Linked DNA regions of Homo sapiens. The protein of the gene in region 4 interacts with the protein of the main gene of each other region in a pairwise test. Each region holds a gene or a part of one and is shown on either strand. Other genes may lie near its edges.

Region 1 (8,131 bases), on a different chromosome or scaffold from region 4:
CAAATTAAAGACTTCAAAGTGTACTTTGGTAACCTCGCAAAAGCACTTTCATTTGAGAGCCTGGGGCAGAAGTCAGAGAGAAGTTGGCTGGAAAGGGATGTCAGTGAGACCACCAGGGTGGTCACTGGAAGGTGCAGCTATGATGTTGGGTTGATGAGTGGGTGCCTTTTTCTCCCTCCCACTTCATCCTCAGGGCAACAAGGGAGGGCAGGAAGGGGCTGTGAGGCCTGTTCCTCTGAAAGCAAGAGACTTCTCTGTGTTTCTGTGATTGAAGCCCACTCCTTTTACATTTTCAGTATCCAAATGACCATTGCTGCCTAGAAAGCCACCCATAGCATTGACTCTGATTTGGGCATGGCCAGTGAGACATCCATAATCATCCGTCCCTAACAAAAATTTCTAAATGTGGTATTTGACTTAAGCCACCTTTGAATCACTCTGAACAGGATGGCACTGAACTTTTATTAATCCCCCCCCACCAAATTCTTTTTTTTTTTTTCCTAGAGAGGCAGGGTCTCACTCTGTCACCAGGCTGGAGCAAGTGCAGGGGCCTGATCATAGTTCACTGTAGTCTTGACCTCTCAGCCTCAAGCAATCCTCCTGCCTCAGCCTCCTGAATAGCTGGGACCACAGGCGTGCTCCAAGGCACCCCACTAATTTTTAAATCATTTTTTGTAGAGATGGCATCTCGCTTTGTTGCCCAGGCTGGTCTTGAACTCCTGGCTTTAAGCAATCCTCTCACCTCAGTCTTTCAAAGTGTTGGGATTACAGGCATTCGCCACCACACCTGGCCCAAATCCTTTTATTTTAAATGCTCTATAGCTATATTGATCTTTCTATTAACAAAACAAATGAACAACAATAACAAAAAGAGAGAGAAAGTGAAACTCACTCAGGAGTCCCCTCTATTCTTTCTGTTCTTAATCCCGGTAACCACACATTTGACTTGAGTTTGATTCTGCCGAGGAAACACAATTATCTAATCATCCAACCAATAATAGTTTTATTCAGGCTCCTCTATGTGCCCCACATGGAGCTTGATGCTGGGTGTAAGCAGTAAAATAAATCAAAACGTGCAAATCTTCCTTTTAGGTCTGTGTCTAGATTAATTTCTTGATGTTTTCCAGTCTAGTGCAACCCAACCCAACAGATCTTGTCAAGGAATAGATGGCTATAGGTTCTGAAAATAAGAATGACTCCAAAGTCCAGACGCAGGATCAGGATGTTCCTTCTCTAAGAAGGTGGTTTAGTTATTTCTGGGAAAATATCCTAGAAAACCTTACAGTGGGATTAGGGACAGTTTAATGGCTATGTCAGTGGTTCCCAACCCTAAATGCACATCAGAGTCACCTAGGCAGTGGATCCATCCCACAACTATTAAATGAGAGTCTCCAGGGATGAGACCTGAATACTGTCTTTTTTCTTTTCTTTTTTCTTTTTTTTTGAGACAGTCTTACTCTGTCACCCCCAGGCTGGAGTGCAGTGGCATGATCTTGGCTCACTGCAACCTCCACCTCCTAGGTTCAAGTGATTCTTCTCTGCCTCAGTTTCCCAAGTAGCTGGGACTACAGGCACGCACCACCACGCCTGGCTATTTTTTTATTTTTATTTTTAGTAGAGACAGGGTTTCACCATGTTGGCCGGGCTGGTCTTGAACTCCTGACCTCAAGTGATCTGCCCACCTCAGCCTCCCAAAGTGCTGGGATTACAGGCGTGAGCCACTGCGCCCCGCCCACTGTCTTTTTTTTTTTTTTAAAGGACCTCAGGTGATTCTGATGCACAGCTCAGGTTGAAAGCACTGAACTAAAGGAAGGAGCCTTTTGATATGCATTCAGGAAGCAGCCAACCTAATGCAATCAAGAAGAGATAGTTCCTAACTGTCAGCCTTGTGGCTAAGTGAGGAAGAGATAATTTGGCAAACCATGGAGACCCCACACAACACACAGAGCTGTAATCTAGAGCAAGGAGACAGACAACTCCCAAACCTACAGTCAGCTCCAAGAGCCCTAGCACCTTTCATGTGCTTTTCCTGAAAGCTGATGTGTGCCATCCATAAAGATCACAGCTGGGCCCACCAAGAGGAAGCTGTGCAGAGATAATGCAGCCCTCACAGCCACTTCCGGAGACTACACAGAGATTCTAGTGGTTTCCACTTAAAACGCTCCAGTGCATTGGAGAGGCATTTGCCGGGCATGCACGCTTGTAGATTTCACATCCCATGAGTGTGGAGCTACTTTCTTCTACCTTCTGTTTGTCAGTTTTAGCTTTTCTGACTACTTCCTTGATGTTAAGTTGTCACTTGCCAGGTTTTCCCAAAACGTGGGTTTCTCATCTCCAACAACCCTAATCTACTTAGCTCTCTAATTACTAACTTCTTACTAGTCTGTGAGTCAGAAAACCACATGACAAAATTGACTTAGAACTGTCACACGATAAGGGAACCAGGAACTCTCCAAATAGAGTTCCTAACTCTTTCAGTTCTCAGAATTAGTGGAAAGATCCTGCAGCCATTTCCAGTGCAACATCCTAGAGATCTGAGGTTCCCTGGAGACCAACTCTCAGATGATCTTGACTGGGATTAACAACGGAGGACAGGACACTCTCAGGACTTACAAATTACAACTGCTATTACAGCTCAGCATTTCAAATTCAAGATAATTTCTTATTCAAATGTGGACCAACAGATAACTGAAAATTCAGTTTCATGAGACGTAAGCAGCTAGATGTAAAGGGGATAAAGAGGACAAAGTCATGCGCTTTTACATTCGGAATTCTGCACTTCCAGCACAGTTCTAAACATCTTGTATTGACTTTGGAGGAGAATGAAAATAGTGAAGCAAGAGTGGATTAGTAAATATACTTAAATCGCAATACCTAGGAGAAGAGTGTTTGGCTGAACTGAAATACTTTTAACACACAGTGCAGTTACATGAGTGACTTAAGGGTTCTTATCTCTGGACTTTGAGTTTTGGCCTAAAATGATGTAATGATGTTGCTAAAAAGACATTGTTAAAGAACTTAAAGCCGAAACAGCTCAGCAGGATGAATGAAGATGAAGGTACTGGCTATCCCAAGGAGCCCATTCAACAGCAGCTTACCTCTTCTCAGCTCCATATTTTCAATGTGACTGGGTCTTATAGTACAGGCTTGTATTCATCACAGATGTTTGGAACTTCAGAATAATACATGGTGCAAATTTGCATTTACCTTCCATTGTAAATCAGTTCCAATAAAAGATAATATAAAAGGCAGAGCTTCTGCCTTGGATTTTGTGTTCTTTAAATTTTTTGGTGCATTCTGTCTTTAAAATATAAGAAGTACCTCACTATATTCAGTGTAACACTCAACCGTCCCTGTCATGAGCTGGGTGACCTTGGTCATTCATTTATCCTCTGGTGGGCTCAAATTATTCATCAGTAAAATAACGAGCCTGTACAAATAAAATGTAATTTTTTTCACATCAGATGGGTAACGTGCCAAATCATAACAAGGTTTGAGCGAGGCACATCTCACACATGGGCATGAAAACCCAATCATCGCTTATGAAACTAACATTTCAATAGAAATACATTATGAAAGTTCTGGTTCTAAATCCATATTATCTTGAGGGCATATCCACTGATGCAATGGATATGATCATTATTTGATTTGATATCAAACTAAAACGAGTGAGAAAAAAAAAAAGAAACCCCAGAATATGTTACAGTTGTTTTTATTCCAACTGAAAATTGAGTAAGGGTAACTCTTCACTTTAACGTACCTAGAAATGATATCTCCTTGCATAATTAGTCATTTAACAGAGCCAGCAACCATCCAGGAGCTTGGCTTGGTGTCATAAGACATGTGTAAGTAGCAAAGCACTGTCTGGTTTTGAAATCTCAAAACCATGAGTATTGAAATGTTGTATTTGAGTGTTTAATGAGAAGTGGTTAATCATTTACTTCCTTTTTTCAGGAAAGGGGAACTCTCTGTCTTCTAGACAAGGTCACCAACATCTAACCTTGGGCTGTGTCTTCCCATACAACCCTATTTACGTCAACCTTCCAATGACTGCTCCTGGGGACAGAGTGGTGAAATGGTACCATGGGCATTCTGACAACCAACTCAGAGAAGAGATGCTACATCCTTTGCCCTCTCAGAGGGTCAGAATTGAGAACATCTCCCAGTACCTAGACATACTCTGGTACATATGAAGTTTGTGATCTATGAATTTGGACCACAGAATCCACCACTACATCTAGCTCTTACTTCTCTCCAATGCCCTGCTGGTTCAGTCAACAGTAAGTCAACAGACAGACATGTAAGAGCTAATGTAAGATGCTAGGCAGAATGCAAGATGTAAGATGTAAGATGTAAGATGTAAGCATGTAAGATGCTAGGCAGAATCCAGAGACAAAGTTGGAAGATGTCACCCTGTGTAACAGAAGTTTCTAGGACTCTGCACACTATGCATATTAATAACGTATTTAAAGAGGGAACTTGAAGACAGTTTAGGCAGGAGATTAAGGAGACCTCTCATGTGTTTTCATGTGTTGTCATAGCCCCATGTTTGGAAATGACAATATGTGACACAAGAGTGTCAAAATGAAGACACCAGAGGATGACAACAGTCAATCAAAGCCCAGTAGAATCTAGGAACTGGAAGCAAGGAAGGTGAGAATTTGTCAGTGTGGCTTCATCACTACCTATTGGTGGAAGACACATACCTGATAACTACTTTGCTAGTTCTTAGCACATCAGGGCCATTTTCTGGAGGCATAATGTAATCTACAGAAACAGCTCTCAAGCCTGACCTTTGCTCTACAGATAGCCTCAGTATTCACCTCTGATTATGTGTCCAGATTGCAGTTTCATTCCTGTTGATACGCCTGGCTTGGGTGGGGACCTTCCTTCCAGATCCTCTAAGTTCTCTTTCATATGCATCTCATTCCAGGGAGAAGGGGAGAGTTCTAAGTCCCAAGTTCTAAGACACATACAGGTACACACCCACACATACAAGCACCCACCCTCACTTTATGGAAAGCATCCAGTGGGGAGACTCATGAACATCAGTCATTCTGAGGCCACATCCTTCTACTAAACTAATCATTCCGCAGACTTGGATGCACCCCGCTTCCACATGGACTTTACCATCCACAACTTACCAGCAAGAATTTGGAAGATTCCAGTGATGTAAAACCTGCCCCCCTTGGTGAGGGTGAAGAGTTGGCAGAAGAACAGGAACAGAGACAGAATGCTGAAGATGATCGACAGGATCATGGTGGCCTGGACAGACTGCAGCCATTCTGGGGGAAAGAGACACTTGGTTAGGAGAGCTGGCCATGGCCGGGGGAGGGCTCTGCCTCGAGGTGCAGGGCCTGAAGGGCCATGACTGCTGACAGCACAGTCCTCACAGGCAGCAGAAGCAGAAGTCCTTTTTCCTTAGCAGAACTCAGACAATTCACTTTTGCAATCTAAGAAGACATTCTTTATTGTTTATTTTGGAGGAAAAAATATATACATATATACATACATCTATATGTACTGATATATACATATACAAACACACACATGTGCCAATATGTACACATTACATACATATATACCTATATGTACAAATATGCATACAAATATGTACGTGTTTCTATATATATGTGTATATACACATATACAAATACGTGACACACACATATATATAAAAAACACATGTGAACATTCAGGGAAGGGCTGTAAAAAAATATCTATAGTTCCATCACTAGGAGTTAAAGTCATTTTAAAATATATTGAATTTCCTTCCAGTGTTGGTGCAAATGTGTTACTTATGTACATGTGTCTGTGTTAAAGAGGGCCTGAGCCCTGCCTACTACCTTCCCTCTTCTTGCCCTCAGGGGTCTTTGAAGGGCTTATCAGAACTTCTGTATTCCAAGAAAAATAGCTTAAAACCACTATTCAAATTATCTGCATTCCCCAAGGAGAGGTAAAGATCACGGGAATGGCTGTTAGAGCCCAAAGTAATTTTTTGGAAGAATGGAAGAAAATACTGATGAAGAAAGGTATGCTCTCTATAGGTATGGAAATCAATTTGCTTGGACAACCCGTATTTTTTTTTTTTTTTTTTTTTGGTCAACTCTGATCATGGCCATTAGCCTCAGCACAGAGCGGTGTGTGATCGCCAACCACCAGACGGGATGAAGGCTTACACTTCCTTATCTCTGTTGAACCCCAAATCTCCAAGCTTCCAACTGAAATTCAGGCAAGAAGACAGAGCCTCCTATGGTTTCTTCAGTTCACCATCCGCTGCAAACTCATGTCATTTCAGGGAGGAAAGAAGAAACAACCTGAGTTCCACACTGTAGAGGGAAGCCCAGGGTAAAAATCTGCATTTGGCCTCTGTCTTGTCTTCCAAGTGCCACAGAATGCTGGGGGCAGGCACTGCTCTCATGGAGGAAGGGCAACTGGGGAAGCTGCAGCATTTAATCCTTTCAGCTCAGTAACTGCCATATGTAATGGCTTCAAAAGCATACCTTCAATGCTTCACCCAGTACTCACAGCTCTGAAATCTGGATGGTTTATAATTAGTAACTGAGTAAGATAAACTTGTTTTGAGTTGTAAGCAGCTCATGGCAGAATTTTAAGGGTGCAAATTAGGTTAACTGTTCCTAGATTTTCACCTAAGATGTTTCCAAGGCACAGACTGGAGATATTTTAGAGTTGGAAGAAACCTGAGAGATCAACTAGTCCAGCTCCTTTGCACTGAAAGAGATTTCCAGAGGTGTTTTCATGAGCCCAAATGACACAGCCAAATCTAAGAGGCCTTTGATTCTAGTCTAGCACTCTTCACATTCAAGCACAACATATGCTTCTTTCATTTTTTCAATTTCTTTGTCAATTAAAGTAAGAAAATGACGGCTAATGGGTTGTGAGCCATCCTGATTTCACTCTTACATAACCTTAATCAAATGTTTGTCTTTATCCAGCATAGAGGTTCTTCTGGAGGAGCACTTTGCAATAAAGATAATGTTCTCATAATATTGTTTGCTTAAAATAAAAAAATTATCTAGCACTTTGGTAGATGCAGCTGGAATTACAAAGAAATCTGAGACTCAAATCTGAAACTAAAACAAATAAAGGGATTCACTTTGGCTGGGAAATGTCCTTCCATGTGCATGTTCATGAGGAGTATGGCTGGTGGAGACAATATCTTAGATTTCCTTCTCCAATCCTGAGATACTGTCTTCACCCTTAACCCCGCGCCCCTGTCATTTTCAGCAGAAACTACTACGAGACCTCACATACACAGAAAACTTAAAATCTTTATATGTTAAATCTATATAAACAGAAAGTGTCTAATATTTAATAATATAACCTAAATACTTCTTGAAACATCTTTCAACATTAACTTGAATTTTAGTCCCAACCCCATTACAATTGAGCTCTTTGCCATAAGTTATTTCTCGAATCAAATCAGAATTAGAGGATCAAGGACATTTTTATTCAATGAGCATTTGTTGAATACCTACTGCTTTGAGCCAAGCCCTCTGGTTGACTCTGATGATCCAGAGATGAAGAAGATGGTTTTCAACCATAAGCACAATAAATAAAACACATGCATTAAGATAGTAAGTCTATCATCAACCACATTATATGTGAATGGGTTCAAGGCACTCATAAGATATGGAATTTTATCTTTGATTAAGACATTTTGGGAGGCTGAGGCAGGTAGATCACTTGAGGCCAGGAGTTCAAGACCAGCCTGGCCAACATGCCAAAACCCCATCTCTACGAAAAATACAAAAAAATTGGCCAGGTGTGCTGGTGGACACCTATAGTCCCAGCTACTTGGGAGGTTGAGGCAGAGAATCGCTTGAACTCAGGAGGTGGAGGTTGTAGTGAGCCAAGATCACACCACTGCACTCCAGCCTGGGCACAGAGAGAGACTCTGTCTCAAAAAAAAAAAAAAAAAAAAAAAAGAGAGACATTGTAGCTATATTCTAATATAATAGATACACCTAAAACAAGCAACAGTCAAAAACAAAAAAGATTCTGAAAAGAAGCTTCAGGCAAATGTTAACAAAAAAGAAAGAAGATAAATTAATAATAAAAAATAGAACTTATGTTGAAAGGATAAAAGTGGCCAGAGAGTTGTTTGGTT
Region 2 (8,628 bases), on a different chromosome or scaffold from region 4:
TGAATCCTGCATTAGGAGGGTTATGCGTTCAACTTCTCTACTAGACCGTGCTTCCAGAGGAAAGATTCTTATGTCCTACGTGTGTCTGACACCCCATTGCCAAGGTACAGCATCATGCACATAACAATCAATTAGCAAGGTCTGATGATGCCAAAAGCTATCACCTTTAATTCACAACAAATGTTTATAGAGTAGTTTCAATCTCCATGCAAAACATGCATAGACAGGTTATAAAGCTCTGTGTTAAGTTCAACAAAAGAGTATTCCAAGCACCAGAGAGGGAAGCAGTAATTATCAACAGAGGAAGGATGAAGCCATGTTTTAAGTCTGCAGGCCTTATCTCAGTGTCTTCCCGGGGCCTGAGTTCACTGGCCAATATGGTGGGCAAAGTGCCAGCTCCATTTCAATTACTTCATTCTCCCTTTATTGCTGTTCTTTTTTTTGGTTTGTTTTTGGCTGAGTGCATACTACTAACTACACAAAATTAAATGCTGCATGACATGATCCCTCCCACTGTACCAACTCCATGTATTAATCTATGTACCTCTCCCCTCTTCTCAAAAGCCCTTCTTCTGGTTTTATCTAAATGTATACCTAATCTAATAGGTCTTCCCTGGTCCTGTTAGCTTCATCCCACATGTCTGTCCTCCCCTGGAACTCCTGAAAACACTTCAGAAAACATGGGAGTCTGCTTGACAGCTCCTCACCCAAGTGCCTGCCAACCTTCACCAGCCTGGAGCTCATAGCTCAACACCTGGCTGGGTGCTGAATTACACACAGCTGAATGACTTACCTGCTAACAGATACCTTCTAGTGCCCAACTGCATAGTAAACTGCCACAGGGCAGGGAGAGGGCAGGGCAAGAACAAGGTCTCAAAATCCTTTCCCATCTCCCTCAGCACACAACAGTGCTATGCACACAGCATGAGCTCAAACTCTTGCTAGTTAAAACCACTCCCAATACCCCAAAAATACCTCTCAGACAGCCCACCAATTTAGACGTATCTAAGGCATTACAGGTACAGGTGCCTTAGGAGTCCCTCTAGTACATGTGCTAGAGGTGGAGATTGGTCACAGAGGGTGACTAACTCCTTCCTCCTGCCTTTCTGTCCCAACCAGGTACCCAAGACTTGCACCTCCAAGACAGGGATCATGCCTCTTTTACTCCCGGGTCCTTGGAGGTCAGCACCGAGTTCAGCACACAGCCAGTACTGAAGGAGGAATTGACCAAAGGGAGAGATTATCTCCAGGACTCATGCTACTTGGTGGTTTTGCTTTCAGCTGGAAGCCTCAATCCACTGTCAAATGGAAACTTAAAGAACATCCCGATGACTATGCCTGCGCAAAGAGCAGGAAAACTAAAAACTATTTTCCACAATGAATTTGGCAACTTCCTGCCAAGCTGAACAACTTAGTGCTGCAGATTGCAAAATCACACTCATAGTCATTCTTTCCTAATCAACTATTCCCTCAACTTCACAATTCCCATCACCACCAACACCACACTCCACTCACCCAGACATACAACCTCCGCAGCACGTTTGACCAGTACTGCCGTTCATGGCCTATTAAATACTAGGTACTCAAGTGCTGCTTATTTACTCCTTGATCGCACAGCAATCACCCACCCATTTTCTTCCACTCTTCACACCCTCTGTGCACAAGACCTCAGCCGATGCCTTGCTCTCTGGCACCCAGCCCTCCAGGCCCCATCCTCTCACCTTCTTCCCAGACCCTAAATGCCACCATCATTCAACCAGTCTGTCCTCTGCTCAAACAATAACTTCACAGTTCTGAAACCATCAGCCTACACTCTTCTGTTCCAGGCTGACCCAGGCCCATATTCACTCTCAGACTCCAGGAACTCTGACTTATCCTCCTGCCTTGGCTAGGAGAGTCACTGTGTCTCTCTTTCCAGGAACATATAACATTCTCTGCCATCTCAAAACCTTAACAAAGGTCTTACTCCTTCTTGTCCAAATCCCACCCACCCTCTGACAAAAGTTTTCCCAAAGTCCAGCCGCACTGGGTCCTCTCTCTTCCCCTGCCACAGAACTGTATTTAACCCTCCTGCGCTACCTTCCTGTTGGTTCATAAACACTCTCTCCTGTGTGGAGAGTCAGAACAGCTGATGAGGAAGGTAAGGCACGTAGCCACGTGATCCTGCCCAAACCACCAGACTTTCCAATCTCACACAACTGTTATGAAGCTCAAATGATAATTTACAGGAAGGGGACTTGTTCATCTCACATTTGTAAGACCGTCCAAGTTGAGGATCCCTCTAATGCCTGCCAAGTGCAGATATTTCCTATCATTCACAACCCTAGAGAGCTAAGATCTCAGCAAATACCAATTATATGTAAGACACTGAAAGAACACACTTCTCATGGAGCACCGGTCTTCACATCCTCCATGTAGCCACTCAGGAACTTCTCTGGTGTAAAATTTTAGGCGGCTGGACAAATATGTAGGAGACAGGGGTGAAAAACGGGGACACAGCTATTCTTGGCAAATCTGGTGGCAAGGTGCCAGTTCTAAGGGTGGAACATAAACTATAAGCCACAGTCCGATCAGAGGGGCATGAGGAACAAAAGAACTGAGGAGTAGGGATGCGAGCAGAGTAGACCAGGGTACCAATGAAACACCTGGGCAAAGAACGCTTTGGACCATAAAACTGGGGCCACTGCCCTTCCTGACGCTCACGACCATCACAGCTGGGCGTACCCAGACTCGGGCCTGTGAGCCGTAAAATCGCAGCTCACCGGGCCAGACCGGGGCGGCCACTCCCCTCCGTCCTGGGCGAGGCTTACCAATCGAGATCTCCTGCGCGAAGGCCAGCGAGATGAGCAGCAGGGGCAGCCCCACCGCAATGCACGTGACCATCTTGTCCACAGCCAGCTCCAGTCGCAGCCCCTTGAACTTGGGCTCCGTGGGCTCCTTCAGCAAGAAATCCGAGAACACGTACTCCGTGGCCAGTTGAGCGATGGCCATGGCTGCGGCGCGCCAGGCTCGACCAGGAGGTCCGGGTACAGCCGGCGTCGGGAAAGCTGCGCGGCGCCTTCACCCAGTCACCGGCCGGGCGCGCGGCTTTCGCTTTCCCTTTGCCTGCTCCCGCATCCCGCCTGCCTTTGTGTCTCGGTGCCTCAGGCTCCCAGCGACTCCGCTGGGCTCTCGCGCTCGCTGCCTCCGCCGCCGGCGGGGCGGGGCGGGGCGGGAACCCGAGAGCTCCGCTTCCTGCGGTTCCACCCCGCACGCCCGTGCAAGTCCCCGGGCCGCGCGCGGCACTCGGATTCGCGCCTCTCCCGCGCACCCCCAGGCGCGGGAACCACGCGCGGAACAAAGCGCTTCCCTCTGGCCCTGCCCCTCCGCGCCGCCCTGGCTGCCGAAGCGGCCGCCGGGATAGCCCTGCGCTCACAGCCAGCTGCGCCGCGCTCTTCCGGAACCATGCGGGGAAACCAAGTACCCAGGGGCGTGGAGCTTCCGGAAGACGCGGTGACGCGGGGCGGGGTGGGCGCGGCTGCATTCCGCGCCCCTCGGGCCACTCTCTGACAAAGGGATTTTCCCACTGAGCGGCACCTTTGGAAATTCTCCCGTCCCTCCCTGCCGGATTCTCCTCACGTCCTGGCACCCGGGAGTTTTAAAATCATTTCTGCAAGCGACTCTTTCTGTGGATGGGATGGCCCCCTTTACGCCCCACCCCCAACATTTCCAACACGGTGAAATCGGGTTAGAAGGAGCTGCAAAAGCTTCAAAGAACAGTCAGTGCCATAAAAGGCCAATCGAGCGGTGTAGACCGACGGTGCCTTGCAGAGGGAGCGCTGGACCCTTCCAGGAGCTCCGCGTGAGAGGGTGGCGCGGAAACGGTAGTGAGTGTGGAGTTTCGAGGCCTGAGTAGCGCTGCTGGTCCCGTTTCTCTTTCCTCTGCCATCCCAATCAGAGCCTTGTTCCGGGAGCCAGCAGAGAGAGGGGGGCCTGCAGGTAGGTGGGTGTTGGGGCTGCAGAGAGCTGCTTCTGAACAGCTCATAGGAAGTGGATGATGGAAAGACAGGAGGAAATACTCTGACCAGTGTCCACGGAAATTAAGGCTGTTGAAGTAGAAATAATTTGATTTATTGGAAGCTAAATGTGAGGATCCACCCAAGAAGACTTACCAGCAAAGTTGGGCATGTTTCAAAATTTGTTACACGTTGGAAGGGTTTTAGAAGAAAGTTTAGGAAAAGGGAGGAGGACCCCTTATATCAGAGGTGGGATTTTTTTCATCGGAGGGTATGGTACACAGGTTACAGTCACTGGCTGCAGATGACAACATACAGGCTAAAATGTTTTGTGCACAAGAAAATCAAAGTTTATATGATTCAGAAACAAGTCAGTGTTCTTTTCAATGTCAGTATTTTACATACTAATCAGTACATCAGCAGTTTGAGGAACTGACAAAAGGATTTGAAGGACTCACAGTAAGATTTTTTACTCAGGGACAGGATCTAAGCCATGAATCATAAGACCTTTCTTAGATGGCTTAGTTTGGAAGCCCTGTCAAATGTGACATGTAGGTTATCACCAGTAACATTTGAAGCAGGCAGGACCTGCAAACATGAGGGCTCCTTGGGGCAGGGCTTGGCTCCCTTCTCTGTGGGTCCACAGATACAAGCCTCAACTCCCACATGTACCTCTCCACCCCAGCCTGGCCGCTAAACACACATCCAAGAGCGTATACAGCTCTCTCCGCGTAGATGGCTCATAGGGCTTCAAACTCATAACGGCCAGGACTTCAGTCTTCATCTTCCCCTTAAACCTGAACTCCATCTTCCCCATCTTACTAAATGTACCACCAGCCACCTGTGCACCCAAGTCGGAATCCTGGAGCACCATCTTCAACACTCCATTTCTCACAGCTGCCATAACCAATTTTCAAATTCTCTTGCTTCTCTCTCCTAAATATAGCAAATCTGACACCCCTCCACCTGCACTGCCAATACCCAATTCAACTCACCATCCTGTCTCCTAACCACATATAGGAAATATGTGAGACAGGGTCCCCCTCCATTCTCCTCTACAGCTGCCAGGATGAGCTTTTCAAAACTCCAGTCGGATCATCTTTTCTACTTAAAGTGTACATTGTTTTTAGCATAAAATACAAATTTCTTAGCATGGCCTCTGCCTACCTCACCACCAGCTTCACTGCTTTCCTTTCAGTTCTTCAAGTTAGCTAAGCCCTTGGCCTCCTCCAGGCCTTCCCACCCAAAACACTCCCCACAGTGGCCTCTTTGCCTGGCCCACCTTTATTCACCCTTCTGGCCTCAGCTTGATGTCACTTCCCTGGGAAAGCCTTCCCTAAGTAGACAGACTAGATTAGGTCCCTTTGTGAAATTCTCCCATAATACTAGCCACACTAGTTACTAGCTATTAGTCTTGGGGAGTTCTTTGACTCTCCTGTGTCTCAGTTTTCTCATCTGTAAAAAGGTTGTACCTCTTAGGACTGTGATAAGGACCAAATGAGTTAACACGTGGGTAGTGCCCAGTGCCTGGCACCTTGTGAATCTAGGTACATTTCATCTGTCATTGTTCTCTATTTTTCCTTCTTAAAAATAGTCACCATTGCAACTCAACAAATATTTATTCATTTATTTAGTGTTTGCCACCACTTTATGTGATCGGCTTCTTGAGGGTAGGCCCATGCCCATGTGTACCACTTTTATCCTCAACACTTAGCACAAATGCCTCACACAGAGTTGATGTTTTAATTCATATTATTAAATAAATGTCTGAAGGAATCTGAACACTTTTTAAAACTGGCCCAGTTCACACTCATTTATCCATACATTCCAGGCATATATTAGAGGCTGGTGATGGGCCAGTTCTGGGCTCAGTGGATGGGGAAGCAGAAATGAAGTGAATGGATTCCATTTCCTCAAAGACCTTATGGCTTAGCAAGAGAAATAAGGCATGCACACAATTAACTATAATGCAAGGTAGAAAGAGTGATTATTGTGAAAAGTGGGGTATACCAAGGGAGGTGCAGAGAATAAGTAGGGCCTGGGAGAATGTGTCAGTTGGGACATTCAGAGCTGGGACAGGGGCTTTCTGGGAGTCAGGAAATCATGGGTGCCATTTCCCTTCTTTCCTTGCCAAAAGCTAATCATCCGATAGGCTCAAATGGCCCCTTTTTAGGCTCAAATGCCCCCTTTTTAGGAAGCCTTCCAGGATCCTCCAGTTGTAATGAATCCTTCCCTCCCTTGTTACTCTCTCCTCTGGCCTAGAAGTTAGTTCATTTTGCCTCCTGTGATGGGATGATGGATTGTGTATCTCTTTTTTCATTACATAGCAAGTTCCTCTGAGGATCTGGAGTGAATCTCAGCAGTTGCATAAATTGCCCTCAGTTTTGGCAATTTTTTACATTCCATATGATGTTATCCTACTTTTAATGAATTTAAAATAGAAGCCAGATGGAGAACTTGTTGGAAAATAGTGTGTCCGGAATTGATTCCTTCTGGTGGGTTCTTGGTCTCACTGACTTCAAGAATGAAGCCACGGGCCCTCGTGTTGAGTGTTACTGTTCTTAAAGGTAGTGTGGACCCAAAGAGTGAGCAGCAGCAAGATTTATTGTGAAGAACAAAAGAACAAAGCTTCCACAGCATGGAAGGGAAGCTGAGCAGCTTGCCGCTCTGGTGGCCAGCTTGTATTCACTTATTTGGCCCCGCCCACATCTTGCTGATTGGTCCATTTTACAGAGCGCTGATTGGTCCATTTCACAGAGTGATAATTGGTGCATTTACAAAACTTTAGCTACACACAGAGCACCGATTGGTGCATTTTTACAGAGTGCTGATTGGTGCATTTACAAACCTTTAGGTAGACACAGAGCGCTGGTTGCTGTGTTTTTACAGAGTACTGATTGGTGCGTTTACAAACCTTTAGCTAGACACAGAGCACTGATTGGTGTGTTTACAATCCTCTAGCTAGACAGAAAATTTCTCCAAGTCCCCATCTGACCCAGAAGCCCAGCTGGCTTCACCTCTCAATCCCCCCTCTAAACAGGACACCCCAACTGCTGTTGGGAATTGGGTGATGACTGCTCTAGCTACTTCCTGCTGGATAGGAGCAAAGAAGGGGCCCTGCAGTTGTAGTATCCTCCAGAGGGGAACTCTTTAGGCCAGTGAAAGGACCAGCGGGTCGGTCCAGGGGTCCTCGGTAGAAGTTGTTAGTTGAGCTCATTTGGGGTTCCATTGGTAAGACCATCTGTAGCTTGATGGCCTCGATCCTAGAGGAAACAAATTTAACAAGGAGTTTAAAAATACAGGGCCCGAAGGCAAGTAATAGTAAGATGGCTGCCATGGGACCTAGAAAGGGGAGAAGCCATGTTGCCCAACTCCAGAGGTTGGTATAAGAGTTTGAAAGGCATTGTCTGATTTTGGAAGCCTTTTCCTGTAAACGCCAGGTGGCATATCATACTATCCCTGAATGGTTAGTGTGAAAACAACACTCTTCCCCTAAGAAGGTGCACAGTCCTCCTTTCTCAGCAGTGAGGAGGTCTAGGCCTCGGCCGTTTTGGAGAGTCGCTGCTGCCAAAGAGTCTATTTGGGATTGTAGAATAAGGATAGATTTCGTTATCTCTTGCAAACTGTCTGAGAAATCCTTTGAGAGTGTGTGGTAGTAGGATAATGAAGTAGATAAACTGACTATTCCGGTTCCTGTAGCAGTAGCCATTCCTAACCCCATAAGTAGGGGTATTAGTTGTATGGCTCTGCACTAACAGACTTGAGCTTTGAGGGGTACTGATAGGGTCTGATTTCCTGGGGAAATGTTAATGTCGGGACTTAGAAATACTAAGGTGCAGGTGCCTTCCAGTTAGTGGGGTGGCAGATATAGTTCAACATTCCACATAAGAAGAATATACCTTGGCTGGGTAGACAGAACTGGTTGTGTATGTTATAAAGGTGTGTGAGTTTATTGTTTTCATTTTCCTATACTCCTAGAATACTTGCCAAGATAGCTGCTATGAGTGGCTGGAAAGGGGTGTTGGGAGCAAACTGAGTGGCTCCCTGTGTTCTATTTTCCCATTGGAGAAAAAACCATTTTGTATCTACTAGGAACCATTCGAGAGAGCGATTGAAAGAGGGGATGAGATGGCATTCACTAGTGGTGGGGATACTGCTGCAGGGGGTCCAGGGGTGAATGGTCATGCAGAGAGTATGTTTGCCATTACAAAACCTGGACTGTTTGTTAAGCAGGGAGGAGGTGATGATTTTGGGGGCCCCTGAGACGTGGACAAGCCGTCTGAATGGAGCTGTTTGAGTGACTTGGAAGTTACTATGATCAGTTGGGGCTTGAAGTTGTATGGTGTAATTACACTGATGTGGTAGTAGGTGCCCCAGGAGCAGACCTGATAACAGGTTGCATTGGATGCATAAAGGGGCTTGGAAAGTTAAGATGGTATTTGTAGTTACAGGGCTGTGTATGGGCTTTTCATTGCTTGTGTAATAGGTGAGGTTGGAAATGTAAGAACGCAAAAGTTGTATCGCATGTCCTGTTAGGGTATTCTTGGTCCTATCAGAGATGGGGAAGTTGGCTAATGATTGCATATTTAGAAGTCGGAAAGGGTCTTTTCCTTCAAAACGAGGGTGGTATGTT
Region 3 (8,131 bases), on a different chromosome or scaffold from region 4:
TAAATAAATATATAGATATAGATATATCTCTATAATAATGTATCTACTCACTCTTGTAGATATTAGATCCCAGCTTCTTCTCATTAGTTAGAGTAAGAATAAAGCAGAAAGGTTTGAGAATTGAAAACAGAACCTTGCTGCTTCTGACATCATGACCTTGAGAATCTCAAACGCTTAGCTAAAGTAAAATATACATACATTTTGAAAGATAAAAGATTAAAATAAGTTTGATGGAGACTATTAAAATATAGTATTGTTTAGGTTATGAAGACATACTTAGCATAGTTTCATAATTTAAATAAAATCAGGTCTTAAGAGGGTGCTACAAAACAAGTTCCCACATCATCTTACTTCACCTAGCCCATCTCAGCACACAACACACTCTTGAATATTAAAACATCTAGCAAATGCTACATCTCTGGATAAAATGCATTACCCAAATTTCTAACAGGGCAGGGAAATGGAATGGAACTTCCAATGTCAAATTTTAGTATGCCCCCACTAAAAAAATCTATGAGCTCTGAATTTTGTTAATAAAGACAATTAAAACCCATTTATGCCTGAGGTTGCAATTTTTTTAATTTTTGCATGTGTGAAAAATCAGACCTTGGCGATGAGGCTTGAGCAGTAGGATATAAATAACTCCCACATGCTTAGCGTTCCAATAATGGAACACTAGGCATAAATAGGCTAAGTTGATATCCTTAGAAAAGTTTAATCATAAAACTAAAACTATTTCTCTGGGCCAGGCATGGTGGTTCATGCTTGTAATCCCAGCACTTTGGGAGGCCAAGGCAGGAGGACCACTTGAGCCCAGGAGTTTGAGACCAGCCTGGGAAACATAATGGGAGCCTGTCTCTACAAAAAAATTTTTAAATAGCCAGGCGTGATAGCAAGCACCTGCAGTCCCAGCAACTCAGGAAACTGAGACAGGAGAACCACTTGAACCCAGGAGGTCAAGGCTGCATGATGGCACCAGTGCACTCGAGCCTGGGTGACAGAGCATGGCTCTGTCTCTAAAAAAACAATAAAATAAAAATTATTCTGGCTGATTAAATATTACTAAATTTTTTTAACATTCCACTAAATCAATGATAAATTTAAACCTGTTACATACACTACAGGTAAATTTTCTCATTTTAACTCATGAAATGATTGACATTTAACAATATTTATATCATAACCACCCACAGTGGCTAAAAGTTCACTACCTATATAACAATCCAATTAGAGGTTAAGAACAAAGTTTCTGGACCCGGACTGTCTAGGTTCAAATCACACTCTGCCATTAAACAACTGTGAAACCTTAGGCAAGTTATAATCTCTCTGGACTCAGTTTCATCTCTAAAATGGAAGTAACAGTACTTATCTTACATGTTGTTTGGAGGATTCAATGACTTAATATATATGAAATGGTTTGAACAACACTTGGCATATAATAAGCACTATACAAGTGTTAGATGCTGCATTATTTGGTTCAAAATTTTTAACAAAGACAAGCTAACACCACCTCATGCTTTAAAAAGAATGCTCATTCAAGAGACTGTTTATTGAAGATATTATTTATAATCAAAAACTTTCTACTTTTACAAAAACTAGAATTGCATTAAAATATACAACGCACAATCTCACATACCTGTTTGGAATACAAGTTCTTTCCCTCCTACACCTGCTGCCTCTAGGTTAATGAATGCACGAATCAAGCTAGCCCAGGGGTGCTGAGTAATGAAACCATGACTGGCCTTAAAGAGAAGGAAAGAAAACAAATATTTGTTAAACAATCTTAAATTATCAGTCTTGATTTTGCTTAAACACAGAGAGACTACTTTGATGAGGTAAGGAATATGAAAACAAAATAATCGCTCTTCAAAGGCAGTATCCAAAGACATCTTCTGCTTCTTTTCCTATGCATAATGGCCATGCACATCAGGTTCGGAAAGTCACCTATCACAGAAGGCAGCCTGGTGACCATCAGCGGTGCCAAACAACATCCCTGGTAAGTACAAGGCTGTGCAAAAGAAAAGGCAAAGAGGGCCAGGCACGGTGGCTCACACCTGTAATCCCAAAACTTTGGGAGGCCATGGTGGGAAGATCACCCGAGCTCAGGAGTTCGAGACCAGCCTGGGCAACATAGCGAGACTCCCTCTTTTTTTGTTTGCTCATTTTTGAAACAGAGCCTGTGGCCCAGGCTGGAGTGCAATGGCTCGATCTCGGATCACCGCAATCTCCACGTTCCAGGTTCAAACGATTCTCCTGCCTCAACCTCCCGAATAGCTGGGATTACAGGCACCCACCACCACGCCTGGCTAATTTTTGTAATTTTAGTAGAGACGGGGTTTCACCATGTTGGCCAGGCTGGTCTCAAACTCCTGACCTCGTGATCTGCCTGCCTCGGCCTCCCAAAGTGCTGGGATTATAGGCATGAGCCAGCGTGCCTGGCCCCCTTCTCTTTTTAAAAAGAAAGAAAAAAAAGAGAACAGGAGAAGAGACGATCCATATGGCTGGGCATTTATTTGTGCCTGTCTCAAAACATCTCTGAAACTTCAATGTCAAAGAAAACCTGAGGAGAGTAATTATGCCAGCGAGAGCCCTTCTCTCAATCAAATCCTGCCACAATAATCTGCTAAGTGGAGTTTTCCAAATATTAAACATCTCTACATAAGTGGTTGTGAATTTGTTAAAGTACTGCTCATAAAGTATTTTTCTGCATATTATTTTATACTACCCACAGGAGTCATAAAAAATGCATTTACTATTTAGTAAATAATATTTAGCTATTATTATTAATCTCATCCTTATTCAAGCCTGATATTTAAAACAGTAAAATCTCACTTGCAAGACATTTTCCTCAGCACCATTAAAGAGAAATATGACAGCATGATGCAAGGCTTCTGAAGATGTTGACAAGACGCGAAGGACTTCCAGCATCACTGAGCAGCTAACTGCATCATCACTGGCACCTTCAAATCAGAAAAACAAATTTGCTGCTCAGATTTTAAAATGTTTACAATATGACCCATTAGGACTAGGAATGGAGCTTTCTCCTCAGAGAAGCATCACAATAGCTGCATGACCAGAAGCATAGCTCTGTCATCATCAGGTGACAATCACACCCACCAGCAGTAAGTTCCATGAAGGGATCTTTGTCTGGTTTGCTCACTGACTTACTCTCAATGCCTACTACCATGCCTGACCCACCAGAGTCACTCAATTAGTGTCTGCTAAATGAAGTAACCTGAGGGGACCTAAAGTCATACTGGAAACTGGTATTCTCAGCAAACCAAGGCAATCTGTTCTATTCTTTACCCGTATTCCACATCCTCTGTAATAGTCTCACTTCTGGTGCTCACAGCTTCCTGCATCATCTCCCACTGCACCCACTCCTTTCTTGCTTGTTTTCCTGCCAAAATCATAAAAGCTGCACAGAGAGGTCACTTTGGATGGTGTAACATTCCTTTAAGGCTTCTCCAAGGGGATTATGTGATGGAAAACTAAAAAGAAGATACCTAATCTAGTAAGTCACAGGAAAGGAGACTAATGACCTAAGTAGTATCCTAGGTCCCAGAACACACACTCAGTTGAATCTCTGAACCTCTTCTTGATTCAGAAATTTTGTATGTTAATTAAAAGTAACTATAAAGATGACTTAACTGTCTTGCTTTTTTAAAGCATTGTAAGAGACAATTAAAGGAATTGATTGGATATTTGATGATACCAAGGAATTACTGTTAGGTTTTTTTAGGTGAGGCAATTGGTGGTATCAAAAAGGGCCCTTATCTGCCAGCAACACAGAGTGAAATACTTTTAGAGAGGAACTGATATAGCTAAGATCTGCTTCAAAATAATCAAGAAGTTGGGAGGGTAGTGGTAGGAAAGAAACAAGATCAGACTGCTGAAGCTGGGAGATAAGTACACTGGGGTTCATTAAACAATTCTGCTTTTGAATATATTTGAAACTTTCCATATCAGAAAACTTAAAGAGTAATCAAAGTAAATAAGCACTAACGTAACTCAGGCAGTAACATTTCTGGGTTTACACATTTGAAGCAGGGTGCCAAAGAGTTTGGCGTGGATTTGAGAGCAAGAAAGATTTGGAAGTAAATTTGAGCTCTGTCACTTTACTCCACTATTTCCTGGTTGAAAGAGCAAGCTAATGATACCTACCTCACAGGTTTAAGAGTCACACAAGATAATGCCCAGTGCCTAGCACCTGGTAGGTATTCAATGTTCATTTTTCCCTCTCTTTGCAAATCTGAGGAAGGCTCTGTAGCTAGCTAAAATTAAAATGCTTGTTTGGGCTCTGTTAAATTCCAGACCCCATTCCTACTTAAGAAGAAATTACCTATTAACCATACTTGTCTTGGTGGTGATTACTGGTTTGTATTTCAATCGAAGTGAAACAAAGTAATAATCATTTAATTACTATCAAATAGAAAATGCTGCTATTAGCAAAATGTGTCACCTTCCAAAAACCTAATGAAATAAACTCTCTTTTTAATTTGACACTGTGAGTTACTTTAAAATAGAGAGCAAACAATAAAATGTTTCTTTATTCAAAAAGAGAGAAAGGGAAATTGAAAGGTATCTATACAGGGTTGATTAAAAAGTTAAACTGTCCATTCAGCTTCCCTTATTTTAATGGTTCTGGTGCGTTAAAAGAGAACTACAGAAGAGTCAAATATCTTTAAGAAAGGGAAGGAAAGTTAAGAGGACAGTATCTATAAGGGCTAGGTGGTTAGCTGACATCCCTTTCCATTTAGAATTAACCTTGAAATTGAAGCCACCCCCAAAATAACTCAATGCCTCTTCTACCAACGACCTGGAACCACACAGCAAACTCAAGAAGATAATTAAGGCTTTTCTGTGGATAACATTACTCCTAATTGGTATCAATTCCTGAGTCCTAGATACACAGATGAGAACTTAAAAAGAAAAAAAGAAAAAAGAAGTGCTTCAATTAGGCCATCCACTAAAAGGATTTAGGTGATAGTCTATTTCAGGGGTGTCCAATCTTTTGGCTTCCATGGGCCACATTAAGAGAAGAACTGTCTTGGGCCACATATAAAAGACACTAACACTAACAATCACTGATGAGCTAAAAAATAAAATAAAAATTGAAAAAAAAATCTCACGTTTTGAGAAAGTTTATGAATTTGTATTGGGCCACATTCAAAGCTACCCAGGACTGCAGGTTGGACAAGCTTAATCTATTTGATGAATGTGTGAAACACTATTTTTAACAATTTATTATTGACAGAAATTGCCTTGAGATTGTTGCTAAGGGTATTCCTATAAAATTTTAGTTAAAAGTAGGTTCTAGGGCCAGGCGCAGTGGCTCACACCTGTAATCCCAGCACTTTGGGAGGCCAAGGCAGGCAGATCACGAGGTCAGGAGATTGAGACCATCCTGGCTAACACAGTGAAACCCCATCTCTACTAACAAAAAAATAGCGAGGCTGAGGCAGGAGAATGGCATGAACCCGGGAGGCGGAGGTTGCAGTGAGCAGAGATAGCGCCACTGCAGTCTGGCGTGGGCGAGAGCGAGACTCCGTCTCAAAAAAAAAAAAAATTCGCAAGGCATGGTGGTGGGCGCCTATAGTCCCAGCTACTCGGGAGGCTGAGGCAAGAGAATGGCGTGAACCCGGGAGGCAGAGCTTGCAGTGAGCCGAGATCGCGCCACTGCACTCTAGCCTGGGCGACAGAGTGAGACTCCGCCTCATAAATAAATGAATAAGTGAATGAATGAATGAATGTACGTTCTAGGCCAGGCACAGTGGTTCCCACCTGTAATCCCAGCACTTTGGGAGGATGAGGTAGAATAATCACTTAAGGAGTTCAAGACCAGCCTGGGCAACAAAGTGAGAACCTGTCTCTATTATTTAAAACATAATAATAAAAAGTGGGTTCTAATGGCTCACAAAAATGCTGGCCTTTAATTATTAGACTCCACATATACAATCTGTAACATTTGGCACTATGTTTGTAAAGAGTAACTGAATATGCACTCCAAAATATGTCACTTTGACATACGGATTATTTTGAGCTGAAGGCAACTGAGAAGCAGGTACTATACAAAAAAGCTCTCTGCCCTCCCCTTGTTTGCCTAAAAGCAGGGTATACATTTACCAAGGTGTCCCCACTTCCCCTTTCCACCAGGAAGTACAAAGGTTGATCAAGAAAGACAACTTTAAACTTTTGGTGGCCTGGCAACAGCACAAAAGGAATCTATATAACACTTTACTAACTAACCTTTCTCTACCATTTATTTGCCTTCCTTCAATTTGCCACCCCTCGAGACTCAAGGTCCTTTTCCTTTGTCACTTCTCTAAAAATGTATTGTTTGGTTGAAGATGCTACATAAGCCAGATTTCTAAGCCACCTCTTTGAGATGTACTCATTTTCCTTGAGTATCTCCCATGTACATGAAGTGCATGTGTTAATAAACTTCTATTTGGTTTTTCTCTTTTTAACCTGTCTTTTGTTACAGGGGTCCACTCAGCTAAGAACTATGAAGGGTAGAGGGGAAACTTTTTTCTTTTGTCCCTACATTTGCTGCTAATTCTTGTATATACAGCCTTCTTATATAATGTTCTTAAGCAACCATGGTGTTTATTTGCCGCTTCCCAGAATTTAAGCATCATAATAGTGGGCAAAGAGTGACATTTATTACTGCTTTGAAATGGACATAAAAAAACCACTGGTGGCCGGGCACAGTGGCTCACACCTATAATCTCAGAAATTTGGGAGACTGAGGTAGGCGGATCACTTGAGGTCAGGAGTTCAAGACCAGCCTGGCCAACATGGTGAAACCCTGTCGCTGCCAAAAATACAAAAAAAATCAGCCGAGTGTGGTGGCACAGTAGGAGAATCGCTTAAACCCGGGAGGCAGAGGATGCAGTGAGCCAAGATTGTGCCACTGCATGCCAGCCTGGTGACAGAGTGAGACTTGGCCCCCCAGCCAAAAAAAAAAAAAAAAAAACACTAAACCACTGGTTACCCCAGCAGCACACGAAGGTACTTCTGGCTTATTTAACAAACGTGTGTATACTGATTTTTGAAAATGCAAGTTACATTCTAAACGCAATTGTCAAGCTTTCTAAATGAAGATATTCTAATATGAATCATTTTATCAAGCAAATAAATTTTACTTACATTTTGTATAACTCTAGACGTTCAAATTTGGCCTGCTATAAGTTCGAGTAATCCAGAAGTGTTAATATTACATAAGAGTTAATAAAAACTTTTAAAAATCACTTTCCATGCCAGGTACTATTTTAGCGTTTTACTTATTTTTAATCCTCCAAGCAACACTATTAGGAAAGTACTATTATTTTCTCCATTACACAGATGAGAAACTAAGAAGTTAAGCAATTTGCAAAAGGGAGTATTAATTACACCCTAATATTCTTTTTCCTTTCAAATGTAGCTGAAAGAACTGACTGGCCAGGAAATCCAGCATCTTATCCTAGTTTTGTCTCTGATCAGCGATGACCAGCTAGCTAAATGTACTCCTGTATCAAATGAGGGGTTCAGCCAGATGCCATCTCAGGTCTTGTCTACCACTAAAATGCTATGCCATTGTAAATGCTATTTTCCATCCCTATTTACAATCCCTTTAACCACTGAATACAATTTTCTGAAAAATAAATATTTTAATAAATGGAAGTTCAATTTAGGGGATTCCCATTCATTTGACAAATATATACTGCATCAGGCACTGTCCTAAATGCAAGTATTCTATTTTGCCAAATGATTTTCAGAGAAAGATTTACACATTAATTAGGTACTTTAACAGTATGGCACCCTCAGTGGAGCAAAATTCTCACTTTATAGGTCAACAGAATCTGCTAGAAGAGATATCCGCCAACCCGCAGCCCAGGACAGCTTTGAATGCAGCCCAATACAAATTTGTAAACTTTCTTAAAACATGAGTTTTTTTTTTTAAGCTCATCAGCCATCATTAGTGTATATTATGTGTGGCCCATGACAATTCTTCTTCTTCCAATGTGGCCCAGGGCAGCCAAAAGATTGGACACCCCTGCTCTAAAACCATGCAGTAACCCTTGAAGGCAGGGACTGTCCTTATGTGGTATCCCCAAAGCCTAGTATAACACCCAGCTGAGTAAAACAC
Region 4 (6,773 bases):
AGAGTAAGGCTCAGTAAAGTCTCCTTACGTTGTGACTGTTAATTTTAAAAGCCCCTTGAGGGTTTAGTGTGGTGCTAAGCTAGGGGGAAGAGTCCAGCGGGAGGGTGCAGAGGAAGTAGAGAACAGGTGCCTCCTCTGTCAGTTTGTCAGGCAGGGCTGAGGGGAGGAGCCTGCAGGAATGCTAAGGACTTGGAGGAGCGGGCTCTGGGCTCTGTGGCAGCTAAGATGCCAAAGAAAACAAGGGCTAAAGAAACCCCGCTATTGTTCCTGCCCAGCTCTGGCATTTCCTGCTGGAGCAGCTCCTCCCCCAGGTCTCTCCTCTTAAGGCCGGAGGTCAGTCTGTCCTTTCTTCCATGGGTCCCAGCGCTTTGTCCCCAGCCAATCATGCCAGCTGTACATGCCAGTTGTACGCAGGATTTTCTTCTGGGCCTGGGACTTGGGCTGGACAATGACCCTGATGACCCCAGAGGCCATTGGGGGCCAGGCTCCTTTGCTGCTGAACTTGCCTCCAGTTCGCACCCTTTCACTTGCTTTCTCATCCTCTCTCCCCAGGCACTGTCTTCATAGTCCACAGGTCTCAAACTCCAGCATCTCAGAATGAAAGGATTCACAAGTGCTCACAAGAGGCTTGGCTGCCAGGGGAAGCTCCGACCTGAAGATTTGAACTAATGAGGGACTATAAAGGCCAAGACCTTGTTCTTGCCATTTTAGAGATTCAGAATATAATCTACAAAGTTAGAGATTATAATTGGCCTCCACTGTGTGATTTGATTCCAAGCTACCCATGAAGAAACCCAGACTCAGAGGTCACTTGCCTAGGGTCACACAGTGACCTGAGATGGGAACCACAGGTCGCCACATAGACTTGGTCATCAGGAGTGGGCCTGGTGAGGCCAAAGAAGGAGATTTCATCTGTCAAGGTTACTCACACAGGGCAGCTGATTCTGTTTCCTAGGGCCTGTGTCTTAGGCTCTTCCATCTCTCTAACCACTAGAGTCCCTCTGTCCTCAAGTCATCACAGTAAACTCCCATTATGTCTCGGAATTCTCTTTGCCCAAGCACTCAGGCCCTGCCCTGGCAGCTCCAGAGGAATGCCCGGGACCTTTGTGAGCTGAGTGATGGGTCTCCCCATTTGTGGCAGGGGGAATTTGAATGTCTTAGGGAGAGCCCTTCCCCTCCTCTCCTGATATGGGGACTTCTGAGTTCCCTGGGAGAAGTTGAGGGCTGGGGTAGAAGTGGTAGGGAGCTCCGCCTGTCTTCTGGTACCTTGGGCTGTATTTCTATTACCACTGCCAAGTTGTGGAAGAAACAGTACTTATTGGCAAATGAGCATTTATTGAGTGCTTATTATATGCAGAGCAGTTGAAGGAAGGTAGATAGGAGAACGCCATCCAAGAACTGGAAGCAGCCCTTGTCCCCAAAGGGCTTACAGTCTAGCTGGGAGGCATTGTATATATACAACATCACAGCTTAAAGATACAAAACGACATTGAAGCACCATTTGCAGGTGCAAAGTCATTTGGCACAAAGTGGGAGTATGGGACAGCTCAGAACCTTCTCTGTCCCCAGCTTAGGGACCTGGAGGTCTGTCTACCTGTCTCCATGCTGCCCTGCCTCTGTCTGGTTTGGTGTGTGTGATCTCTGTTCTCTGACTGACCGGGTGCTCTTAAAGGGCAGAAACCAGCCCCACATTCTTTGTCCTCTCTACCCTGCTGCCCTCGCCAAGGCTCTCCGTCCACTGCAAGACAGTGGGTTGGGCTGGAAAGGCCCAGCCATGTGTTCTGGCTTCTGCCAGGGCCTCCCAGGAGCCTAGGATTTGTCTCAGTGGAAAAATCATGGGATTTTGTGTAAAAAGGTCTGAGTTCAAGTGTTGGCTCCACCATATACTACCTGTGAGACTTTAGACCAGTCCCTTAGCCTTGGTTTCTGAATCTGTAAAATGGGAAGAACAATATTTGCTCTACCTTTGTCACGGGGTTGGGAGATAATCACAGGGGACGATAAGGGGAAGCTTTGGAAATAGCAAAACCCTTCATGGCTGGGGGCCTTTGTCCTTCCCTAACCTATCTGAAGTTTGAGGAAGATCAGATAAGTCCGTGCATGCAAGGCACCCAGCACAGCAGCTGGTACACAAGAGATGCCAGGAACTGCCAATTTCCCTCCACCCCTGGAGTTCCATCACTTGGAATCCTTTTTTGACCTCTGACTCCAATCTGGGCAATAGAGGCTAGAAATGGTAGGGATTTCACATTTAGTTTTTGGGGAGATGCAATCCAAAAAGTGAAACAGACATAGAGAGAAATTCTTGGCTTCTTCTAGAGGAGTTTGTTGGGGTGAGGTGGGGTGGGGATGAGGTGCCTGAGACACATCCATGCTGGGCTCATAGCTCACTGCCTTGCTGCCTTTGAACCTCTAGAGCAAGGACACTCAGGTGCCAGGAGGACAGCTCTGGAGGTCACTTTGGTTTCTGACTCCACCCTTCTTCTGGTAGTGAGGCCAAGTGGCTGTCACTAGCTATTGGGGGTTTGGGAGAGTCCTCTCCATAGCACATATGGCCCAGGGCAGCCTTTTTTGGACCTCAAAGAGAGCTTTGGTCAAGGAAGACAGGAAAGAGCATAGATGAGAGGGGACACAATTACAGAGATGTTCCTTATACACTGTCTTTCTTGGATGGGAGCAGAAGGGAGAAAGAGGCTAGAGACTTAGTGCCTGGTGCACAGTGGGTGCTTGGTGCAGTGTGAGATAGATACAGACAGAAGTCTTGAAGGCATGGAGGCCACAGAGAGCATGGGGGCGGAGGGGGGTTCAAGGTATGACCCACATGTTACTTATACAGCAGGCTGGAGAGGGAAGGAGAGAATGGATAGGGCTGGGTGGTAGGAGGAAGGAGGTGGGAGAAAAGATAGGGCACACATTCAGGGTAAGAAGAGGTTAAGAGGCTGGGCCAGGATGGGGCCAGCCCCAAACCCATCTCCTTCTGCCTGGATCTTGTGGGCTCCCAGGACTCTCCTTTGCTTTGGCCATCAACGAAAGGAGGTAAGGGATGTTGAGCATCAGACTCCTTCTGCATCCTTCCCCCAGGAAGCAGAAATAATGAAATGATTCTAGTAATGCGTGATAATGGTATTAAGAATTACAGTTTACACAGCATCTTTACATGCGTCATCTCACTTAATCCCAGTTAATCTCTTTTGAGAGCAGTAGTACTGGCCTAGAAATTTAGAAGCCTGGGTTCTAGACTCAGATCTGCCTCTGCCTGGAGAAGTCATTTCCCTTCTCTGGTCCTGAGAGCAGCAGGCTGCTCTATCCACAATGACTGTCCAGTGGTAGGAGCCAGAAGCAGGGGATCACGGGCTGTGGAGAGGCAGACAGAGAAGGAACAGAGATTCCTGGGGTGGAAAAGCTGCTGCCTGAGGACTGGGGAGAGTGAGATGGGTGATGGATGGGTATTGCCTGGTGCCCATGGTTGCATGCCTGAGCGCCTTGCCCAGCCAGCCATAGGTGTGTGCTGGGCAAGAGGGCTCACTTGTGAAACTGAGTGTCTCCTTTCAAGAAGTGTCTAGGTGCAAATCTCCCCTCACCCAAGACAAAGGCCCGGGTCCCACAAAGGGCTTTTGTTTTCTGCGCCGAAGTGGGAGGCTAATCTCTGGGTCTGGGGCACCCCTGGAGACGGGGGTCCCGGGCACACACAGCATACACACACGTGAAGGCGTGCGCACTCATATGCCTGCTTCCTCTTTGGAGAGGTTCTCCCTCACCACAGAAAGGAAATCTTTGGCCACCAAAGATTTCCTTTTTCCAGAGGCCATGTCTAGGGGAGCTGTTCTCTGGTTGACACCTCTCTACCTCCAGCAATGAGTCTTGGCAAGCCTTGGGGCCCAGCGCTGCAGGTGGGGGAAATTTTCCAGGAGGAGCCAGATTGCGGCTGGAAATCAAGGCCCTCCCTTCAGCCCTCTCAAAGTGGCCTCCTTCCCTTCCCCTTCTCCTGAGGAGGACTGGCACCCACACTCATCCACTGCAGGAGAAGCGGATTTATTGCAGGTTGGGGAGGAAGGGGTGCAAGGGGAAGTGAGAAGTCCCCAGCCATGCACACTTGCACCAACGTAGGCAAACCTGTTCACACTCAGGGGCATGCACAACTCTGCATGTGAGGACAAAAGAGAACTTGGGGATGAACACACTTGCACACTAGTAAAACCAGTTGCATCATTCCCGGAACCCCCAAGGCAGGGGTCTGTACACTCCCCACTCAGTACCTGGGTGCAGGCTCTCCAGAGTTTCCCTCTTACCACCCACCTGCCTCCCTCCCCAGCTCAGTCCCCTAAGTTCCCAGTTCCCTGAAAAAGGCTGGAGAAGCCACCACTAGCTGCTCACAGCCTCAGGGCAGGGGACCTGCCAGGCTCAGGGCTCCCTCCGGCAGCCTCCTCCCCGCCTGCTCACAGCACTGGCCTGGGCGCGCACGTCCAGGAAGCAGCTACTCTGCGCTGGGGGGCCAACTTCAGACCTGCGGGAGAGGAGGGACGGGGTGGGCCCTTCTGCCTCGGGCCTCACAAGCGTCCGTCGGGGCCGTAGAGGCCGCTGGCGGCCCTCAGGCCTTGGTACCCCGTGGCAGGCTCTGCGGCGAGTGCAGCTCCACCGACTGCCGCCGTCGCACCTCGCGCTCCTCCCAATCGGTGTCCGGCTCCAGGCCCTTCAGCACTGCCAGGCGCTCCGACAGGCTCTTGGCTGGCGGAAACAGCACGTAGTTGTAGAGGAGGGAGCCCAGGATGGCGCCCACCAGGGGTCCGATCCAGAAGACCTGGGGGCGAGCGGAGAGGGCGGCTTGGCACCCGCGCCGGCACCGGCACGCGGAGCCCGCAGGCCCCGGCGGCACACTCTGCGGCCGCACCTCTCCTCCCCGACATTAATCTAGTAAAATGCTTATTTATGTAATTACAACGACAACGCCAGCTGCTGGGGAAGCCTTGTCAGTGCGGGGTTAAGGGTGCGAATTCTGAAGCCACTGCCTGTGTGTGTCCTGATTCCACCACTTAAGTGCTGTGTGCACTTCAACAAGTTACTTACCCTCTCTGTGCCTTTCACTCTAAGAATGTCTACCTCCTGGGGTGGTTGTGAAAACTGAGTTAATGTTTGCAAAGCACTCAGAACAAGGCTCACCACATACTAAGCACCAGATAAGTGCTAAATACTACCACTTATAGAGTTCTAAGTGCCAGACACTGCATTATCTGGGTTACACCGGTAACCTCACTTACTGTTCCCAAGAAGCCAGTGAGGTAAGCTGTTGTCATCCTCATTCACAGACGTGGAAACTGAGTCTTTGGCATCAGATCTGAGGGGTGGAACCCAAGGCTCCCCAGGACCAGGAGGAGTGTGGAGGGTTTGGGGTACCGCTGCTGAGCCCCCATCCCATGCTATTCCAGCTCTTGTTCTCCCTCTAAAATGGGTTTCTAGAGAAGGGGAGGGCAGGGGGTTTCAGCCATTACCCAGTGGTCATCAAATTTGCCAGTGACGACAGCTGGAGCCAGGGAGCGGGCAGGATTCATAGAGCAGCCGGTGTAATGGATCTGCAGTGGGAGGAGGGCATCAAAGAGAGAAGGGAGGTGAGGACAGGGCAGGAAGTCCTTGTCCCGCACTGCAGTGCTTGACCTCAGCCTAAAGGGAACCCACGTGATGGACAATTAACATCACGTTTTATTTACAGATGGGCTGGAGTGATATCTGTCCCTCTGGGGTATCTAGGAGTCAAACCTCTGGGGTGTCTGTTCCTCTTGAGAGTTCTGTGTATGTGTCCCTCTTGGGGTCTCTGTGTCTGTCTCTGGAGTGGTCTGTGTGTCTGTTCCTCCAGGGAGGCTGGAACCCATGGCCATGACCTACCCCAAGGAGGTGGCCCAGGGCCACAGAGAAGCCTATGGAGAGAGCAGGGGTGCCCGGGTTCTCTCCGCGGCGCTCATCGGTGGAGGCGAAGATGCAGAGCACCAGCTGCAGTGTCAGGAAGAGCTCCACAGTCACCGCCTGGCCAGCCGTCGTGCTGTTGCTGAGCTGGGGACAGAGAAGAGGCGGGTAGGGGAACACTGAGCCCACTTTCCTCTCTGGCTCCATCTTCCTGTCCACCTGCAGTCGAGGCACCAGGGGGCCTCTGGGCTGGGAGCCGGAACACCTGGGCTTGCCAGACGCCTTAGCTGCAACGACTGATCCCTTCTTCCTGGGCCCTGGCCCAAAGGCAGCCCCTGATCCCCCAGGATGCCCATGGTCCCCCCGCCAGAGGTAGCAAAACTGACTCTGTAGCCCATTAGATTGGGGCCTGAGGCTGGGAGCCTGCAGTATGAGAGGAAAAGAATGCTGAGATCCGGAATTTCTGTTTCCCAAAGAACAAGAAGGGAAGAGGTTTCAACTGCCTCAGGAAGCTTTGGGCCGGTTAGCAGGAAGACCTTCCTCTGTCTGTAGACCATCAGACCTTGGTGCAATGAGAGGCCTGTGGTCTTTCTTCCTGAGGTTAAATGGCTCCCAGAGACAGGGTCTAGGGACTTGGGTCTGGGGGACAGTCCTAGTGTGCCCCTTTCCGCTATGAGTCCGGAATCTACCTCTTTCCCTAACCCTTGTCTATTCCCCACTGCCTTTCAGGCCTCAGGTTTGCCCTGTTAGTTTGCTCCCTGCACATCCTATGGAGGTTGGGGTAAGGGCCCTGGAGCTGTGTTGGACAATGCCTCCACACCCATGTAGGCTGCCCATGGTCTCAGCAGACCCTGCCTTGGGTAAGGAGAGAACTCGGG

The links.
Region 1: the proteins of AQP2 (region 4) and PMP22 interact in binary tests that used the Homo sapiens proteins (3 or more experiments, as listed by UniProt).
Region 2: the proteins of AQP2 (region 4) and PANX1 interact in binary tests that used the Homo sapiens proteins (3 or more experiments, as listed by UniProt).
Region 3: the proteins of AQP2 (region 4) and ERMP1 interact in binary tests that used the Homo sapiens proteins (3 or more experiments, as listed by UniProt).

The regions. Positions count from the first base shown.
Region 1 is NC_000017.11:15,234,327-15,242,457, forward strand, and holds part of PMP22 (peripheral myelin protein 22), read right to left. Parts: intron 5,286-8,131; coding exon 5,145-5,285; intron 3,556-5,144; exon of another isoform or gene 3,459-3,555; intron 959-3,458; coding exon of another isoform or gene 921-958; exon of another isoform or gene 893-920; intron 1-892. UniProt on the Homo sapiens protein: Might be involved in growth regulation, and in myelinization in the peripheral nervous system.
Region 2 is NC_000011.10:94,123,676-94,132,303, reverse strand, and holds the start of PANX1 (pannexin-1), read right to left. Parts: upstream 3,464-8,628; 5' UTR 2,992-3,463; coding exon 2,811-2,991; intron 1-2,810. UniProt on the Homo sapiens protein: Ion channel involved in a variety of physiological functions such as blood pressure regulation, apoptotic cell clearance and oogenesis.
Region 3 is NC_000009.12:5,822,260-5,830,390, forward strand, and holds part of ERMP1 (endoplasmic reticulum metallopeptidase 1), read right to left. Parts: intron 2,961-8,131; coding exon 2,833-2,960; intron 1,743-2,832; coding exon 1,637-1,742; intron 1-1,636. UniProt on the Homo sapiens protein: Within the ovary, required for the organization of somatic cells and oocytes into discrete follicular structures.
Region 4 is NC_000012.12:49,953,424-49,960,196, reverse strand, and holds the end of AQP2 (aquaporin-2), read right to left. Parts: intron 6,064-6,773; exon of another isoform or gene 6,043-6,063; coding exon 5,878-6,042; exon of another isoform or gene 5,849-5,877; intron 5,568-5,848; coding exon 5,487-5,567; intron 4,799-5,486; coding exon 4,589-4,798; 3' UTR 1,319-4,588; downstream 1-1,318. UniProt on the Homo sapiens protein: Forms a water-specific channel that provides the plasma membranes of renal collecting duct with high permeability to water, thereby permitting water to move in the direction of an osmotic gradient. Plays an essential role in renal water homeostasis.